Regions from separate parts of the Homo sapiens genome. Here all the other regions are linked to region 3. The links come from fine-mapping of genetic effects on gene expression. A gene starts in region 3. Each other region holds a variant in brackets. All regions are shown on one strand. Distances are from middle to middle.

Region 1 (6,494 bases), 810 kb after region 3:
ACACATATTTTCAGATTGTTGGTTCTGATTCCTGGATCAGTTCCTCTTATGGCCTACCCATGCATACAATGCATAATCCTGGTGGGCTCTAGAAGCAGGGGTTGCTAATTGTCCTTTATCCTAGAGAAGCCAAATGAAGAATTTCTGGCTTTTGGTTCTAACTAGCCTACTATGTACCTTTTTTTAGGCTGGCCATGGGGAAAGCAAAGGTTAATAAAGCAGTATGCTTGCCTCAGAAGCCAATTAGAGGCTTTTGCCTACAAAAGCAATTATAATGCAATGCTGTCTGTGAAGAGTGCTATAAAAGGTAAAAACCTTGCAATCGAGTGGTGAGCAAATTAATCTGGGAAGTCTTTGCAGATTTAATCTAGACCTTGAAAACTGGAAACGGCAGTGGCAGGTTGATGTGTTCTGTGTAGGTTTGGAGGGTAAAGGTGGAGGGAACGGGCTGTAGTACATTCAGCATAAACAAAGGTAGAAGCCAGAAAGAGCAAGGAATCTGTGAAACTGGGAGCAAAGTGGTATTTTCTAACATGGTTGGAAGAGAGGATGTGAGAGAACAGAGACTAGAAAGACAATGCCAATAACAAATAACTGAAATAATAATAACTATTATATTTTGCCTGCTTTGTATTGGCACTGTGCTAAGTGCTTTTCACCCATTATCTCATTTAAAGCACACAACTCTTGCAAGTAGGTATTGTTATTTCTATTTTATAGATGAGGAAACTGAGGAACAGATAATTTATATAACTCAAGATTTCAATCTGGGGCAGGGGTGAGGGTGTCCAATCTTTTGCCACATTGGAAGAAGAAGAATTGTCTTGGGCCACACCTAAAATACACTAACACTAACGATAGCTGATGAGCTAGAAAAAAATTGAAAAAAAACTCATAATGTTTTAAGAAAGTTTACAAATTTGTGTTGGGCCAAATTCAAAGCCATCCTGGGCCGCATGTGGCATGAGGGCCATAGGTTGAACAAGCTTGCTGTACGGTATTGCCTATAACATGTGCTGAAGAACTCTGTTGGGGCATCAGAAGGGAGCTGAGATGGAGGGTTCTGATTACCTGGTGGGCCTGACTCTGCTCCTCCTTACCTTCATGCACTCTTACATTAACTGTCCTCGCCCTCCTTTGTCCTTCTGCAGTTTATTCAAATTGTGAAGTCCCACCATAGCCATGTTCTTGACGTATTGTGCCATGCGTGTATTTTATCTCTCTGACTCATCTTCTGTTTCCTTAAAGGAAGGGATCTTGTCTGTCCTTTCATATCTTCCCCAGGGCGAGGAACTGAAAACACATATGATGGTTAATTGATTGATTAGGATTTCACTAAGCATTCCACTTAGGCACTTACCTACCTGTAATGCTTGTTGACTGCTTGATTGAACACCTTCCTCATTAACTCCATCTGGACAGGCAACTTTTCTGCATATGTGCCAGATCCAGTGCTAGGCACTGTCACTTTCATGATTTCACTTAATTCTCTCTAGATGTGTACTGTGCATTCCCATTTCACAAGATGAGTAAACTGAGGTTCATTGAGGTTAGGTGGCATGTTTCAAAGAATAACTCAAAGGCATATTGTTAGTTATTATCAAGCTAACTTACTTGAATACAAAATACTAATAACAGATTGATTTCATCTAACAAAGGATTTATCTACAAGGAAGAAGAAGAGAGAGGTAAGAAGGAAAACCACAGGCATATTTGAAAATGGTGAACCCTGCTTTCCTCTTGCTGGGCGAACTGGTGACCAGCAAGGGGCCAAGTGGGCTGTTCTGCCCTTGGACAGCAGACTAGGTCCTCAAAGAAAACAAATTCGGTTGTTTATGGGTTCCCCATAAGGCCTCGGAAGTTTAGCTATGAGCAATGTGTGACAGGCTGTCTCTGTGTTTTGGCTGTCACTGTCTTTAGTTAACACCTTCATCTCAGCTATGTCATTTGGGCACCAGCTCCCTTCCAGAATTTCTCAACTACTGCCTCAGTCACTCAGCAACCAAGCCGGGCTGACTATGAAGGTTTCAGGTTCCTTTTGACTCTGATCATGGGTTAACTGTTGTTTTGAGATCCTGGCTGTGCAGGCACATTTAGGCAGTTGGAGTTAGACGGTGGAGGAGGGCAAAAAGCCTAAGTTCAATCATAATAATAAATATCGAAACTCACTTCATGTCCAATGTTTTAGTTTCCCAAAGCCCAACCAGGAGAGCAATTTGGGCTTCGTCAAACTTGCCAAAGGATTAGTTTGGCCAATATTAGATAAGCAAGTGGCTTTTTCATTCATTCATTGATTTATTGCCCCATTTCTCCTGAAGTATTTATCCAGACATAATAAAATGTGTCACCCATTGCCCCGACTTCACCTTGGCTTGTGAGCAAATAAAAATTCTAAGACTCCAGCTTGGCTGGTGAGCAAATAAAAATTCTATCTGATAGATTTACGCTTAAATGTTCTGCTTCTAATGCTTGAGCTATTTCATTTGCTATTTGAGCCAAAGTCTGATATAAATTGTGGATAACATGATCTATTTCAGGAACTCCTGCTCAGAGTATAAATCCTTGCACAAATCAGTAAAATACAGTATCATGGATACCTCCTGGTAAGGTAACATGTCAAAATATTAATAAAATAAGATCACTGGGAGGTTCTGTTTTGAATGTTTGGAAAGGCTGAATGAATATACTGAAAGTGTACAGCATATTTTAATGCAGCAAGCATAGAAAATCCATTTTATTACACCCAAAGAAAGTCCCAGAAGTGCACATTGAGAAGGCATATATGTGTTGTTTATGGTAGGTACCACTTATTGTCTGAATTTAATAGATCTGATTGTTGACGAAAACACTCTAGAGTTAAATAAATCATTTATATAGTTTTTGTTTAGATTTGTGGTAAAATAATTGGACTATAGTTTGCATCATTAGTCTCATGCCTATCCTATTCTTGATATTTCCCCAGTTTCTTTGAAAGTTCTTGGAAATATCAGAAACAACAGTTAATTGTTAATGACCTAGTGTCAAGTTAAGGCATATAGATGTCTCAAGGTTAATATTTCTGTATTGAAGATAGAAGGGAATGACATGGTCAGTCTTAGGGTGAAATCTGATACCATTTAGTCCTATAGGCATGGGTATAAGGGTCTTACTAGAACATCTGGGGCTGGATGAGAAATCCAGCAG[C/T]TGAAAAGATTGGCTGTTGTTGCAGTTGTTTGAGAAAGGCAAATTCACAGAGTTTCTGGAAAATGAAAGTGTTAAAAAAATGGAAAAAAAAGAGTAGGGTGACCATTTTAACAATCTAGTATCTTGAGATACCACAAAATAAAAACAATAAAGGGAAAAAGAGGAGTCAAATAATAAAATGAGGGTCTGTTGCCCTGATTCTGGATCTTAACTAGAAGGTCTTGGGAGAGGGCTCTCCACTTCAGGAAGTCTTTGCTTATGCAGTCCTTTTTGATGACTCTCAGAGTTAAGTCTCTAGTGGGACTGGAGAGATGTCTCAGTGGTAGGATACTTAACACACTGACACTGGCTTGCATGTACCCATGGCTACACAGTCTGGAGTTAAAATGTAGTACTTGTAGTTAAAAGGACCTGAAATGGTCTTTTCTAGTGTGCCTCTTCTTCTTCTTCTTCTTCTTCTTGTTCTTCTTCTTCTTCTTCTTCTTCTTCTTCTTCTTTTTCAGAGACAGGGTTTCATTCTGTTGCACAGGGTGGAGTGCAGTGGTGTGATCATAGCTCACTGCAGTCTTGAACTCCTGGGCTCTAGCAATCCTCTGCCTCAGCCTCCTGAGTAGCTGAGACTACAGTACACACCATCATGCCCAGCTAATTTTTAAAGTTTTTTGCTATGTTGTCCAGGCTGATCTTGAACTCTCAGCCTCAAGTGATCCTCCCACCTTGGCCTGCCCATCTAGTACAACCAACTTTCATCAGTTTCTCTTCCAGCATCTCCAGTCTCCTGACTACAAATCATGTAAGGGTATAGCTGGTAATATTCTCTTTGAAAATGCAGCTTGCACCTGTTGGGCATATGATGTCATTTTTGACAATATTTGACAAGCTTGAAGTGTTTACAAGGTGGAATCCGATAGAGGAGGAGTCATCACAGTCTCATGGGTCTTCCTGGAATTGTTTCAAGGGGAGAGCCTGTTAAGATTTTGAGATGAGATGACTATTGCCTATCGTTACAGCTGATGGTTAGAGTTTAGGTCAGGAGAGATTAAACTCTTCTGAGTATTATGAGAGATCATTGGCCCATTCTATTTTGCAAAAACTTAGTGAGTGGATCAATGTGAGCAAGGAAGTTTTTGTTTTAATGGGAGTACTTTACACAGTTTCTTAAGTATTTCCACCTGTAAAGTGAAATTTTCTATCACTAGAGAGTAATATATGTACTCTATCACTAGAGAGTAATGCAGGTGGGAAAAAACAATATCTATCAATCTATTATCTATCTATCTATCTCTATCTATCTATCTATCTATCTATCTATCTATCTATCTATCTATCTATCTATCTTTTCACCTTTTAGCAAGGGAAAACTTTAATCCAAGTATAAACCTAACGCACCATTATAACTGAATGAAATCCATTTGGAAATGTTCAAATGGTTTTTGAGGCAAAGGTTCTGAACTTTGCCTTTTTCTGCAGCTTTTCCTGGGTCATGATAACAACAGAGAAGGCAAGATTTGGCCACCTGTCTCAAGGAAGATTTTTCTCAGCGAGATTTTTGAAAAATTTGAGCAATTTGTCATTGTGAATAATTTCACAGAGAAAGCACTAAAGGTCTGGAGATGGCCTCTGGTGACATTAAGCACTCATCCTGGCAATGCCAAAGCCCATTATTGCACATGTGACAGTTTGGAGAAGGCCACTATTTCTTTTCTTCTGAAGTGGCAGGTTATCATATTTGAATAAGTCATTCAGGATTCATTAAATCAGATTGAGTAAGTGTCTTTAGAATACCTACTGTAGCAAGAACAGAAAGGACTGCTTATTTTACATAATAGTCAGAAATTCCCTTTTGCTTTAAAAGTACTACCTTTAGAATGAGTTTCTCCATTTCTAATCTATACTTCATTTGGATGTTATATTGCCTCTTATAAATTACTTTTTTTTCCATTTTAGTTGGGGTGCCTGGTGAGATTAGAAAACCTCTTTGTTTTCATAATGTACTAAAAAAATCATGAGCAACTCCAAAGATACATCTATTTGTATAGATGTGTACTCAAGTGTTTAGCAAGGTGACATGCTGGTGATGTAACTGTCATTCAGCTATTTGAGTGGAGTGAGCTATTGATAAAGAACAGCTATAATAGCAGAATAGTCAGAACTTATGGCATAGCCAGCACAAAATATGCTTCGCTTATTCTCAAGATATGAGCCATCAACAAACATCATATCAGAGTTTTCTAGCCAGTGGTTCTCAAGGTTTTCAACCTTTAGCATGCGTCAGAATCACCTGGAGGGCTTGTTGAACTACACAATGCTGGTTTCCACTTCCAGAGTTTTGAATTCAGAAGATCTGGAGTGGGGCCCAACAATGCGGATCCCAGAAAAAGTGCCAGATGATGCTGAGGCTGCTGGTCTGGGGACTATACTTTGAGAGGCATTGCTGTAGAAGAGCATCAAGTGTCAGGCTGAAGAATACTGAGAGTTTAAATAGCTGCTAGACATTCATGACATTCAGTCATTCAAAAGAGGAAGTAGGATATCAGCACTTGGATTAGAACAATATTTAACAGTTTTGGGTGAAGCAGAACATAACAGAACTTCATAGAAGGCAATGAGACTGGCTGACAACCATTGAGTGTTATTCTGAAGTAATAAGATTTCTACTCCTCAGGAATCTCTAGGGTGAGGGAGAGGCAAAGAAGATATCTGCTGGAGCTTCCACCAATCTAGCTGCTGCCCCATGGCATATAAACAGGGGGGAACAAGCCTCGGCCACACGGCCAGAGACATAAGTGATGATCTTATGATAAGCTCCTGATTTTTGAGTAAGCTCATCAAAACGAAGTCTTGCCTTTCGTAGGAAGAGCTTAGCAGAGTTGGGAATGCTCAAAATTGGGTTTGTTGCAAGGCTTGCTTAAGGGACGAAAAGCCCTGCTGTGATCTGAATCCCAAAGCAGGTTCTCTAGAATACTGGATTTGTAGGGGAGGAAAACTAATTTTCTCTCTACCCTTTGTTGACAAAAAGAGTCAAACTGTGTAAAATATTTGAAGAGATTTATTCTGAGCCAAATATGAGTGACCGTGACCTGTGACACAGCCCTCAGGAGGTCCAAGAACATGTGCCCAAGGTGATAGTGGTACAGTTTGGTTTTATATATTTTAAGAAGACATGAGACATCAATCAAATACATTTAAGAAATACATTGGTTTGATTCAGAAAGGCGGGACAACTCAAAGCATGGGGGTGGGGGAGGGGGAGGGGAGGGGGAGGGGGACAGGGGGTAAGGGGGTGGGTGGGGATTCCAGGCTATAGATAA
Region 2 (6,494 bases), 24 kb before region 3:
ACCATTGAAGCTAGGAAGAAACTGCATCAACTAACGAGCAAAATAACCAGCTAACATCATAATCACAGGATCAAATTCACACATAACTATTAACCTTAAATGTAAATGGACTAAATGCTCCAATTAAAAGACACAGACTGGCAAATTGGATAAAGAGTCAAGACCCATCAGTGTGCTATATTCAGGAGACCCATCTCACGTGCAGAGACACACATAGGCTCAAAATAAAGGGATGGAGGAAGATCTACCAAGCAAATGGAAAACAAAAAAAGGCAGGGGTTGCAATCCTAGTCTCTCATAAAACAGACTTTAAACCAACAAAGATCAAAAGAGACAAAGAAGGCCATTACATAATGGTAAAGGGATCAATTCAACAAGAAGAGCTAACTATCCTAAACATATATGCACCCAATACAGGAGCACCCAGATTCATAAAGCAAGTCCTTAGTGACCTACAAAGAGACTTAGACTCCCACACAATAATAATGGGAGACTTTAACACCCCACCGTCAACATTAGATAGATCAACGAGACAGAAAGTTAACAAGGATATCCAGGAACTGAACTCAGCTCTGCACTAAGTGGATCTAATAGACATTTACAGAACTCTCCACCCCAAATCAACAGAATATATGTTCTTCTCAGCACCACACCGCACTTATTCCGAAACTGACCACATAGTTGGAAGTAAAGCACTTCTCAGCAAATGTAAAAGAATGGAAATTATGACAAACTGTCTCTCAGACCACAGTGCAATCAAACTAGAACTCAGGATTAAGAAACTCACTCAAAACTGCTCAACTACATGGAAACTGAACAACCTGCTCCTGAATGACTACTGGGTACATAACGAAATGAAGGCAGAAATAAAGATATTCTTTGAAACCAACGAGAACAAAGACACAACATACCAGAATCTCTGGGACACATTCAAAGCAGTGTGTAGAGGGAAATTTACAGCACTAAATGCCCACAAGAGAAAGCAGGAAAGATCTAAAATTGACACCCTAACATCACAATTAAAAGAACTAGAGAAGCAAGAGCAAACACATTCAAAAGCTAGCAGAAGGCAAGAAATAACTAAGATCAGAGCAGAACTGAAGGAGATAGAGACACAAAAAACCCTTCAAAACATCAATGAATCCAGGAGCTTGTTTTTTGAAAAGATCAACAAAATTGATAGACCGCTAGCAAGACTAATAAAGAAGAAAAGAGAGAAGGATCAAATAGAAGCAATAAAAAATGATAAAGGGGATATCACCACCGATCCCACAGAAATACAAACTACCATCAGAGAATACTATAAACACCTCTACGCAAATAAACTAGAAAATCTAGAGGAAATGGATAAATTCCTCGACACATATACCCTCCCAAGACTAAACCAGGAAGAAGTTGAATCTCTGAATAGACCAATAATAGGCTCTGAAATTGAGGCAATAATTAATAGCTTACCAACCAAAAAAAGTCCAGGACCAGATGGATTCACAGCCAAATTCTACCAGAGGTACAAGGAAGAGCTGGTACCATTCCTTCTGAAACTATTCCAATCAATAGAAAAAGAGGGAATCCTCCCTAACTCATTTTATCAGGCCAGCATCATCCTGATACCAAAGCCTGGCAGAGACACAACAAAAAAAGAGAATTTTAGACCAATATCCCTGATGAACATCGATGCAAAAATCCTCAATAAAATACTGGCAAACCGAATCCAGTAGCACATCAAAAAGCTTATCCACCATGATCAAGAGGGCTTCATCCCTGGGATGCAAGGCTGGTTCAACATACACAAATCAATAAACATAATCCAGCACATAAACAGAACCAACGACAAAAACCATATGATTATCTCAATAGACGCAGAAAAGGCCTTTGACAAAATTCAACAACTAAAACTCTCAATAAATTAGGTATTGATGGGACGTATCTCAAAATAATAAGAGCTATCTATGACAAACCCACAGCCAATATCATACTGAATGGACAAAAACTGGAAGCATTCCCTTTGAAAACCGGCACAAGACAGGGATGCCCTCTCTCACCACTCCTATTCAACATAGTGTTGGAAGTTCTGGCCAGGGCAATCAGGCAGGAGAAGGAAATAAAGGGTATTCAATTAAGAAAAGAGGAAGTCGAATTGTCCCTGTTTGCAGATGACATGATTTATATATCTAGAAAACCCCATCATCTCAGCCCAAAATCTCCTTAAGCTGATAGGCAACTTCAGCAAAGTCTCAGGATACAAAATCAATGTGCAAAAATCCAAGCATTCTTAAACACCAATAACAGACAAACAGCCAAATCATGAGTGAACTCCCATTCACAATTGCTTCAAAGAGAATAAAATACCTAGGAATCCAATTTACAAGGGACGTGAAGGACCTCTTCAAGGAGAACTACAAACCACTGCTCAATGAAACAAAAGAGGATACAAACAAATGGAAGAACATTCCATGCTCATGGGTAGGAAGAATCAATATCATGAAAATGGCCATACTGCTCAAGGTAATTTATAGATTCAATGCCATCCCCATCAAGCTACCAATGACTTTCTTCACAGAATTGGAAAAAACTTCTTTAAAGTTCATATGGAACCAAAAAAGAGCCCGCATGGCCAAGTCAATCCTAAGACAAAAGAACAAAGCTGGAGGCATCACGCTACCTGACTTCAAACTATACCATAAGGCTACAGTAACCAAAACAGCATGGTACTGGTACCAAAACAGAGATACAGACCAATGGAACAGAACAGAGCCCTCAGAAATAATGCCGCATATCTACAACCATCTGATCTTTCACAAACCTGAGAAAAACAAGCAATGGGGAAATGATTCCCTATTTAATAAATGGTGCTGGGAAAACTGACTAGCCATATGTAGAAAGCTGAAACTGGATCCCTTCCTTATACCTTATACAAAAATTAATTCAAGATGGATTAAAGACTTAAATGTTAGACCTAAAACCATAAAAACCCTAGAAGAAAACCTAGGCAATACCATTCAGGACATAGGCATGGGCAAGGACTTCATGTCTAAAACACCAAAAGTAATGGCAACAAAAGCCAAAATTGACAAATGGGATCTAATTAAACTAAAGAGCTTCTGCACAGCAAAAGAAACTACCATCAGAGTGAACAGGCAACCTACAGAATGGGAGAAAATTTTTGCAATCTACTCATCTGACAAAGGGCTAATACCCAGAATCTACAATGAACTCTAACAAATTTACAAGAAAAAAACAAAAAACCCCATCACAAAAAGTGGGCAAAGGATATGAACAGACACTTCTCAAAAGAAGACATTTATGTAGCCAAAAGACACATGAAAAAATGCTCATCATCACTGGCCATCAGAGAAATGCAAATCAAAACCACAATGAAATACCATCTCACACCAGTCAGAATGGTGATCATTAAAAAGTCAGGAAACAACAGGTGCTGGAGAGGATGTGGAGAAATAGGAACACTTTTACACTGTTGGTGGGACTGTAAACTAGTTCAACCCTTGTGGAAGTCAGTGTGGCGCTTCCTCAGGGAT[C/G]TAGAACTAGAAATACCATTTGACCCAGCCATCCCATTACTGGGTATATACCCAAAGGATTATAAATCATGTTGCTATAAAGACACATGCACATGTATGTTTATTGTGACACTATTCACAATAGCAAAGAATTGGAACCAACCCAAATGTCCAAAAATGATAGACTGGATTAAGAAAATGTGGCACATATACACCATAGAATACTATGCAGCCATAAAAAATGATGAGTTCATGTCCTTTGTAGGGACATGGATGAAGCTGGAAACCATCATTCTCAGCAAACTATTGCAAGGACAAAAAACCAAACACCACATGTTCTCACTCATAGGTGGGAATTGAACAGTGAGAACACATGGACACAGGAAGGGGAACATCACACACCAGGGACTGTTGTGGGATGGGGGGCGGGGGAGGAATAGCCTTTGGAGATATACCTAATGTTAAATGACGAGTTACTGGGTGCAGCACACCAACATGGCACATGTATACATATGTAACTAACCTGCACGTTGTGCACATGTACCCTAAAACTTAAAGTATAATAATAAAAAAAAGGATAAAACAAAACAAAACAAAAAAACATTTATACACATTCTGTTTAGTATATACCCAGAAGTGGCATCACTGAGTGATGGGTGTGCACATATACAGCTCTAGTAGAAACTGCCGGCTGGGCATGGAGACTTATGCCTGTAATCCCAGCACTTTGGGAGGCGAAGGCGGGTGGATCACCTGAGGTCAGGAGTTCGAGACCAGCCTGGCCAACATGGTAAAATCCCATCTGTACTAAAAATACAAACATTAGCTGGGCGTTGTGGCGAGCGCCTGTAATTCCAGCTACTTGGGAGCCTGAGGCAGGAGAATCACTTGAACCCAGGAGACAGAGGTTTCAGTGAGCCAAGATCTTGCCACTGCACTCCAGCCTGGGTGACAAGAGTGAAACTCTGTCTCAAAAAAAAAAAAAAGAAAGAAAGAAAAAAGGAACTATAAAACGGTTTTCCAAAATAATTGTTGTATCCATTATGCTCCCATCAGCTGTGAATGAGACATTCTGTCTCTGGAAATGCTTACCAACAGTTGGTATTATCAGATTTTAAATTTTTTCTCTATCTGGGGCTGGGTAGCGGTGGCTCACACCTATAATCCCAGCACTTAGGGAGGCGAAGGCAGGCAGATCACCTGAGGTCAGGAGTTCGAGACCAGCCTGGCCAACATAGTGAAACCTCGTCTCTACTTAAAAAGTACAAAAATTAGCCGGACATGGTGGCACATGCCTGTAGTCCCAGGTACTCAGGAGGCTGAGGCAGGAGAATTGCTTGAACCCCGGAGGCAGAGATTGCAGTGAGCCGAGATAGTGCCACTGCACTCCAGCCTGGGCAACAGAGCAAGACTCCATCTCAAAAAAAAAAATCTTTTTGCCTATCTGATAGACAGGAAATAACATTTTGTTCCTTTAATATACAGCTCTCTGATTTAGTGTGAGCATATTTCTATATATTTATTGGCCATTTGGGTTTCCTCTTATGCAAAATGTTTGTTCATAACCTTTGCATACTTTTTGATTGGGCGTCTTGTCTTTCCCTTAAAATTTTTTAGGAGTTCTTTTTATATGAGGGGTCATCTAAAAGTACACGGAAAATGCATTTGGTGAAAAAAACTATATGCATGGATTTCAAATGTTTTATAGTTTTTTGTTGTTTTTCTGTTTTGCTTTTTTCCTTCCTATTTTTGTTTTGCTTTTATTTATTTATTTTTGTTTTTTCTTTTTTGAATTTCAATTTTTTTTTACACCAAAATAAATCTGTACTAACTTGTTATAACATGTCTGAACAGGATCTGGTTTGAGGGGTTAAGAAGGATAAGACATCAATTTGAAAAGAGCCTCTACCAGAGCCACATGAATTCTGCTAATACTGAAGCAAGAACAAAATCAAATTTATGGTGATGGTTGGGTGGAAGAATGGTGAAAAATCATTGATGCTTTCTGAAAAGTTTATGGGGACAATGCCCCCAAATAAATCAGCAGTTTACAAATAGATAACTCAGCTTAAGAATGGGCCAGGTGTGGCGGCTCATGCCTGTAATCCCAGAACTTTGGGAGGCCAAGGCAGGCCAACCGCTTGAGTCCAGGAGTTTAAGACCAGCCTGAGCAACATGGCGAAACCTCATCTCTACAAAAAAATGGAAAAATTAGCCAGGCGTGGTGGCACGTGCCTGTAGTCCCAGCTACTACTCGGGAGGCTGAGCTGGGAGAATCACCTGAGCCAGGGTAAGTTGAGGCTGCAGTGAGCCATGATCATGCCACTGTACTCCAGCCTGGGTGACAGAGTAAGAGTCTGTCTCAAAACAAAACAAAACAAAACAAAAAACAGAAGCCAATAGCAAGATGAATCACATGCTGGAATTATCTGACAAGGATTTTAGAGTAGTCACCATAAAAATGAGTCAATAAGGAATTACAAATAAACTGGAAACAAAAGAAGAAATAGAAATTCTTTGGCCAGGTGCGATGGCTCACAACTGTAATCCCAGTACTTTGGGAGGCCAAGGCGGTTAGGACGTTTGAGTCCAGGAGCTCAAGACCAGCCTGGGCAATATGGTGAAGCCCCACCTCTACAGAAAATACAAAAAGTAGCCAGTTATGGTGGTGTGCACTTGTGGTTCCAGCTACTTGGGAGGCTGAGCTTAGGAGGATCGATTCAGCCTAGGAGGTTGAGGCTGCAGTGAGCTGTGATTGCACCACTGCACTCCAGCCTGGGCAACAGAGTGAGACCCCATCTCAAAAAAAAATTATCAACATATAGATGATATAGAAAAAGAACCAAATAGAAATGATAGAACTAAAAATTATAAATGAAAATTAAAACTGGCCTGGCGCGGTGGCTCATGCCTGTAATCCCAGCACTTTGGGAGGCCAAGGTGGGTGGATCACCTGAGGTCAGGGGTTTGAGACCAGCC
Region 3 (6,473 bases):
CCAGGGCTAACTGGGAGCCAGCCCTCCCTTCGAGGTAGACCATCGGGGAGGGAACCGAGAAGTAGCTCCCATGGTGGCAGTGGCTTCCTCAGTGGTACTGCTGATAGCTGGGGTAGCCTGGGGCCGGGGTGCCATCCTTAGGGGGCAGCTGGCTGGGGTCCTCCAGGAATGGGGGCGCTGGAGAAGGGAGACTTGGGTAAGGATGAGTGGAAGAGGCCAGGTGGAGTATTTCCCACTCCCCCGACCACCAGTTACTCACCATTTCGGAACTGCTGGGCTGTGTAGCGAGTGAGGAGGATGCCAACGCCCTCAATGAGGGCCAACAGGATGCCCCCCATCATTGCTGAGCCCACCATGGCCAGTGGGCCACCTGGGGGAGTTGGAGGCAGAGAAACAGAGGTGAGAGCAGGCAGAACAGGGTGGAAGGGGCTGGGGCCAGGGCCAGGGGTCACTCACTGCGGGCAGCCAGCACAGCCCCGGTCAATGCTCCACTGGTGATAGAGTTCCAGGGATCCTCCTTGCCCCGAAGCCGCACCAGGCCACAGTCGATGGTGGAGAACAGGCCCCCCCACACTGCGAAGCTACCTGTAGTGGAACCGAGGCCTAATTAGTTCCTGGGAAATCCTGAGAATTCACATCTCAGGGGACTTCCAAGGCCTGAATGCTTTGGCCAAGAACAGGGAGAAAAACCCAGACACAAAGGCAGATAGCAAACCCACACAGAGTATTTCCTATCTGTCCCCATCCTGTGGTAGCTCCCACTTCAAGCCGTCTATAATCACCATCAACATTCCCTTCATCTTTATGGGGAGTTGACAAATGTTTACAAGCAGATTTATCTTCATATGGCTTTTAACAGAGCAACTTTGAGCTTCATAATCACCACACAGAGTTGGAATTCTGATTTGGGTTTCAGTGAGAAGGAAATAGGTTAGGAAACCCAGTTAATATGATAGTTAAAATGTTTACTGAGGGCTTACTGTGTGCCAGGACCTGTTCGAGGTGCTCTGTTATTTAACTTCTGCAATTTTAAATTAGTTAATGTTATTAAAGTGTTTAGCATAGCAACCAGCACTTAGTAGTATGTAAATTACATAAACTATAAAACTACCGATGAAGTGGTTACTGTTATCACCACCCCCACGGTACAAGTGAGGTTCAGAGAGGTTAAGCCACTAGCCCAAGGTCACATGGCAGGGAACAGTCAGGACCTAGATTTAAACTCCAGAACCCACTTTCTTCCCCTCCATATTCAATTGTTGGGAAACATCACCCCCCTAGAAAGTCTCTGGCAGGGGCTAGAATCTGAACCCCTAACTTGCAGCCTAGACCCAAAGGATCAACCACTCCCACCTTTGCCAAGACATCTCCTATATCTATCTCCCCAAGTCCCTCACCTCCAATCTGGGGGGCTCGGATCCTCACAGCATTGGCACTACCTCTCAACCGGTGCCGAATTCCCTGGGGAAAGGAAGGAAGGGCGTTAGGGCAGGGCTGAAGCCACTGGCAGACACGTTTCCAACTTTTAAGAGAGGGAAGAAGATGGGAGACCTGTTAGAGGTATGAGCTGTAGAGATGTGGAGAAGTGGCCAAGAACTAGTGGCCTGGAGAGCGCCCCAACATGGGTGTTCTCAGAGCTAGGTTGAGAAGTGCTAATTCATTCATACATTTGTTCATTCATTCATTCAGTGAATGATTAACAAGTACCTACTATATGTGCCAAGCACCATGCCATATGCAGGGATACAGCCATGAACAAGGTAGGTCTGCTCTCTGCCCTCTCAGAGCTCACATTAACGGTGGGAGACACAGATCTTGAGCAAGAGTAGATAAACAAGGGAGCTTCAGACAGCAATCTGCACTGTAGAGGAAATGCCATGAAGAAATATGACTGGGGCTGAGGGGTCAGGAAAGGCCTCTTGAAGGAGGGGGAATCTGTGCTGAGACCTTGAGGATGACAAACTTGGGCAAAGATCCAGGGAGGAGAGTTCCAGGAGTCTAGGGGAGGGACGGGGCTACATATATAAATTGCAGAGACCTTGGCTAATAGATGGCATTTAAAGTCATGGCATTTGCGATCTTCTGGGAGGGGAGGTGGTCAGAGAAAAAGAATTATGTTAAAAGAATTCTCTCAACTTCAAGGCTGTCTTCCGTCTGCCAATTAAATTCCTGTCATTTTCCTCTATCCGGGTTTCTGAGCCAGAATCTGCCTCTAGGTAAAATGCGCAGTGGCTAACACCTGTAATCCCAGCACTTTGGGAGGCTGAGGTGGGTGGATCACTTGAGTTCAGGAATTAGAGACCAGCCTAAGCAACACGTTGAAACCCCGTCTCTACAAATAAATAAATACATACATAAATAATTAGCCGGGCATGGTGGCGCAGTCCTGTGGTCCCAGCTACTTGGGAGGCTGAGGTGGGAGGATCACTTGAGCCTGGGAGGCGGAGGCTGTAGTGACCCATGATCAGGCCACTGCACGCCAGCCTGGGCAACAGGGCAAGATGCTGTCTCAAAAAAAAAAAAAAAAAAAAAAACATGGCCAGGCACAGTGGCACACGCCTGTAATCCCAGCACTTTGGGAGGCCGAGGTAGGTGGATCACCTGAGGTCCAGAGTTCAAGGCCAGCCTGGCCAACATAGTGAAACCCCATTTCTACTAAAATTACAAAAATTCGTCAGGTCTGGTGGCACATGCCTGTAGTCCCAGCTACTTGGGAGGCTGAGACAGGAGAATTGCCTGAACCCAGGAGGCAGAGGTTGCAGTGAGCCAAGAGCGTGCCACTGCACTCTAGCCTGGGCAACAGAGCAAGACTGTCTCAAAAAAAAAAAAAACTGTCTGGCTTTGCACATACATTTAAAATTTGGTGATGACTCTTTGAACGACACAGCATTTCCACAGAGGAGCTCCAGTTGGGTGGGGTGGAGGGTGGAAGACAGAGGCCATGTTTGCAATCCCTACAAAATCCCAGATACAGGAGCCAGGCTCGGCACATAGTAGGTGAGTGGGCACCAGAATGAATAAGTGCACGTGACTGGCAGCTCCAAGCAGTTTTCAGAGCAGCCTCCCTTGTGGGCAAGATAGCTAACCCCACACCAACCCAGGGAAGGCCTGGACTCACAACAGGGGCATTGCGGAAACCCTTGATGGCCTGGAAGACTCCGCCACCGATGACACCCATAGTGAAGGCTCCACCGCAATCATCCACAATTCGCCATGGGCTGCAAGCAGGAAGGGAAGGACGGGGTTAATGTGAGCCCTCCCCCAGGTCCTGTCACACGAACTCTTTTCTAACTGGGAGAAACCAAGTCACCAGAATGGGAAGTTCCTAAGTAGGAACAAACACTTCAGATAATAATGAGCTAGTTCTGTCACGCTTTTTCCACACACCCCCCCATTAAAGCGAGAAATGGGGCAAAGGGGGAGAAATATTAGTCTTCGCCCTGTCTACCAACCAAGGAATCAGCCAACGGTTTTACTGTGATCAAAGATTAAATGAATTGGCACACGCAGAGTTGACGTTTCAATAAGCGACATAGGCGTGTTAACTAGCCAAGACAGACTGTCAGCAAAGCAGGACCGCGTCGCACCCCTTCTCCGACGGTGAGCCCGTCCAACCATGCCCCGCCCCTTTTCAATCCGGCACAACTGGGAAAAACCAAGAGCGACCGCGGGAAGCATCCACCGTCCCCGCCGGCCCTCAACAGGTTCATCCGTGCCCCGCCCCCCACTGACAAAGGCGACCTGGGAAAAACCACTGGCGGCAACTCTGGGGATTTCCGGTCAACACCGTACCACCCCTAGCCGGGATGGATCGTCCAGCGTGTCTTTTTTCGTTAACAGGGCTAGGAGATTACGAAGTCAGGAGAAACATGGCGTGGTTCGGCCTTCGCCGCACCTTCTCTGGTTGTGGCCCCTCATAACGGAGCCCGAATGACAGGAACCGAGTGGGGGTAGCGGGAGATACGTTAAGAGTCCCCCGAGTCTGGTACATGGCTCTGTGCGGCCGATGCCTCCCCCGCCCGACCCCCACGGCTGGCCTTGGCGTCGCAGCAATATTCCGGATGCCTGTGCCCATTGCCGTACCAGGGCTCCCGAGCGTACTCCTCCATGGCGCTGGCGTCTGGCCGCGCAGTCAGGCCACGCCCCCAGCGTAGACGCACACCGGCGTCGGAGCTTTCCGCCTATTACCGGGCAGCGATTGGGTCGCTATACCGCATGTCACGCCAAGGACGCACTCTCATTGGCCAATCGAGTTTCTGCCATTTGTTCATTGCCTCCTGAGCGTAGTCCAGTTACTTTCAGGCTCGGGGAGTGAAGGCCTCGTTGAGAGAAGGTCTCATTCGGTGTTTTGGGAAGAGAGTCGTGTGGGCCCAGGTATCGTAGCGGCGACACGAGAGAGACGGGCGGTGTGACAGCCTTCCACTACCTGCACGAGTGTATTGGTAACGTTGGGGTGGGTGCACTCTTTTGGAGCTGGAGGAAGTGCTGCCCTCTGCTCCCCCATCCCAGCGCTTTGGTTTCTCCCACCCGGCAGTCATGGGGACGCTGGATGAGCCCATTTCTGAAGTGCGGAGGGGCCGGGCTTCTTAGGCTGTGGGCGGAGCCTGGGCCTGGGAGAGGAACAGGGCCCTGGAGCACCTGGTTTCGGGGACAGTAGGGTTGGTGGGAGTTGCGATGATATTGCCACCTACCTCTTACATCTTTTAGTGCGTATGTTCTGTCCACCCAGCTACTGGTTCATTTGAGTAGATCGGAGTCAGATGAGTACATGTTTACGGGAGGCGCTTGGTTACGGGATCCAGATAGGAATCTTTATCTGAGCTGCTTGTCAGTTTGTTCGTCTGTCCCTAGGTCTGTCTGCTATCAGCTATGCCGCTGCCCGTTGCGCTGCAGACCCGCTTGGCCAAGAGAGGCATCCTCAAACATCTGGAGCCTGGTGAGACAGCTAAAAGCAGATGGTCCTAACACGTGCCAGCCTCGACAGGCACTTTTGTTGTTGATACTGACGCTTGATACCTAGCATGGGCCAACTGTGCACCAAGCAATGGGGTGGCAGGCATTTTTCGTTGTTAACAATGTGGATTCCTGACATCCATCCCTACCGCGTGTCAAGTGGAGGGGGTTGGGGGAATAGATATTTCATTCTTTTTTTTTTTTTTTTTTTTTTTTTTTTTTTTTTTTTTTGAGGCAGAGTCTTATTGTGCACCCAGGCTGGAGTGCAGTGGCGCGATCTCGGCTCACTAAAACCTCCGCCTTCCAGGTTCAAGCGATTCTCCTGCCTTAACTTCCCGAGTAGTTGGGACTACAGGCACGCCCCGCCCCACCACACCTGGCAATTTTTTTTTTTTTTTTTTTGAGACAGAGTCTCGGTCTGTCGCCCAGGCTGGAGTGCTGTGGCGTGATCTCGTCTCACTGCAACCTCCGCCTCCCGGGCTCAAGCGATTTTCCTGTCTCAGCCTCCCAAGTAGCTGGGATTACAGGCACGTGATACCACACCCGGCTGATTTTTGCATTTTTAGTAGAGACGGGTTTCACCATGTTGGCTAGGCTGGCCTCTAACTCCTGACCTCAGGTGATCCACCCCCCACCCTTGGCTTTCCAAAGGGTTGGGATTACAGGCATAAGCCACTGTGCCCGGCAGATATTTCATTCTTAACAATACTGACTGGCTGGGCGTGGCGGCTCAAGCTGGCATTCCCAGCACTTTAGGAGGCTGAGGCGGGTAGATTGCTTGAGTTTAGGGATTAAGAGATTAGCCTGAGCAACATGGCAAAACCCCGTCTTTACAAAAAATACAAAAATTAATCGTGTGTTGTGGTGCATGCCTGTAGTCCCAGCTACTTGGGAGGCTGAGGTGAGAGGATCTCTTGAGCCTAGGATGTCAAGGGTGCAGTGAGCCGAGATTGTGCCACTGCACTCCAGCCTGGCCGACACATGGAGACCCTGTCTGAAAAAAATCCAAAAAAAACAACAAAATAATACTGACCACCTAATGCCTATTTGGGGCCTACTGTATGCCAAGTTAAATCCCATGGATTACTCTATGGGGGTGATGACATAGTATCTAATAGGAAGTACTGCTAACCTCTACTGCTGTCTCCTGTGTGCCAAGCGTAGTTGCAGTGAGGATCTATCATTTAGGCCTACTGTGCTCTGGCTGCAAATCACACCTTATTATCAGTAATACTAAAAACTGGCATCTATTTGGGGCTATAGTGTGCCAGGCACTGGAAAATATATCTTCTCCTTATTGATAACTGACATCTATTACAAGCCTACTGTGTGCAAGGTATAGACCTTGTGGTTAATAAAATTGTCAATGATCCCAGGCCGGGCAGGGTGCCTCATGCCTGTAATCTCAGCGCTTTGGGAGGCGGAGGTGGACGGATCACGAGGTCAGGAGATCGAGACCATTCTGGCTAACAGGGTGAAACCCCATCTCTAATAAAAATACAAAAAACTTAGCCGGGCGT

The links.
Region 1: its variant is fine-mapped to the expression of TIMM17B in lung (TOPMed, PIP 0.99).
Region 2: its variant is fine-mapped to the expression of TIMM17B in lung (TOPMed, PIP 0.98).

What each region holds. Positions count from the first base shown.
Region 1 is chrX:49,702,927-49,709,420 of GRCh38, forward strand. No RefSeq gene overlaps it. Among named protein-coding and RNA genes, the nearest start is that of PAGE1, 10 kb to the left of the region's middle. The variant C/T (reference allele first, on the strand shown) is at 3,184.
Region 2 is chrX:48,870,049-48,876,542 of GRCh38, forward strand. No RefSeq gene overlaps it. Among named protein-coding and RNA genes, the nearest start is that of TIMM17B, 24 kb to the right of the region's middle. The variant C/G (reference allele first, on the strand shown) is at 3,537.
Region 3 is chrX:48,893,641-48,900,113 of GRCh38, forward strand. TIMM17B (translocase of inner mitochondrial membrane 17B) reads right to left here and starts at 4,128. Exons shown (of 6, transcript NM_001395498.1): 1 at 4,084-4,128; 2 at 3,119-3,218; 3 at 1,398-1,461; 4 at 457-585; 5 at 260-370; 6 at 1-177. The coding sequence starts at 4,109. The coding sequence ends at 89. It overlaps PQBP1 (polyglutamine binding protein 1), which reads left to right and starts at 4,290. Exons shown (of 7, transcript NM_001032382.2): 1 at 4,290-4,442; 2 at 4,852-4,936. The coding sequence starts at 4,870. RefSeq lists enhancers at 3,644-3,793, 3,824-4,023, 4,314-4,683, 4,734-4,953.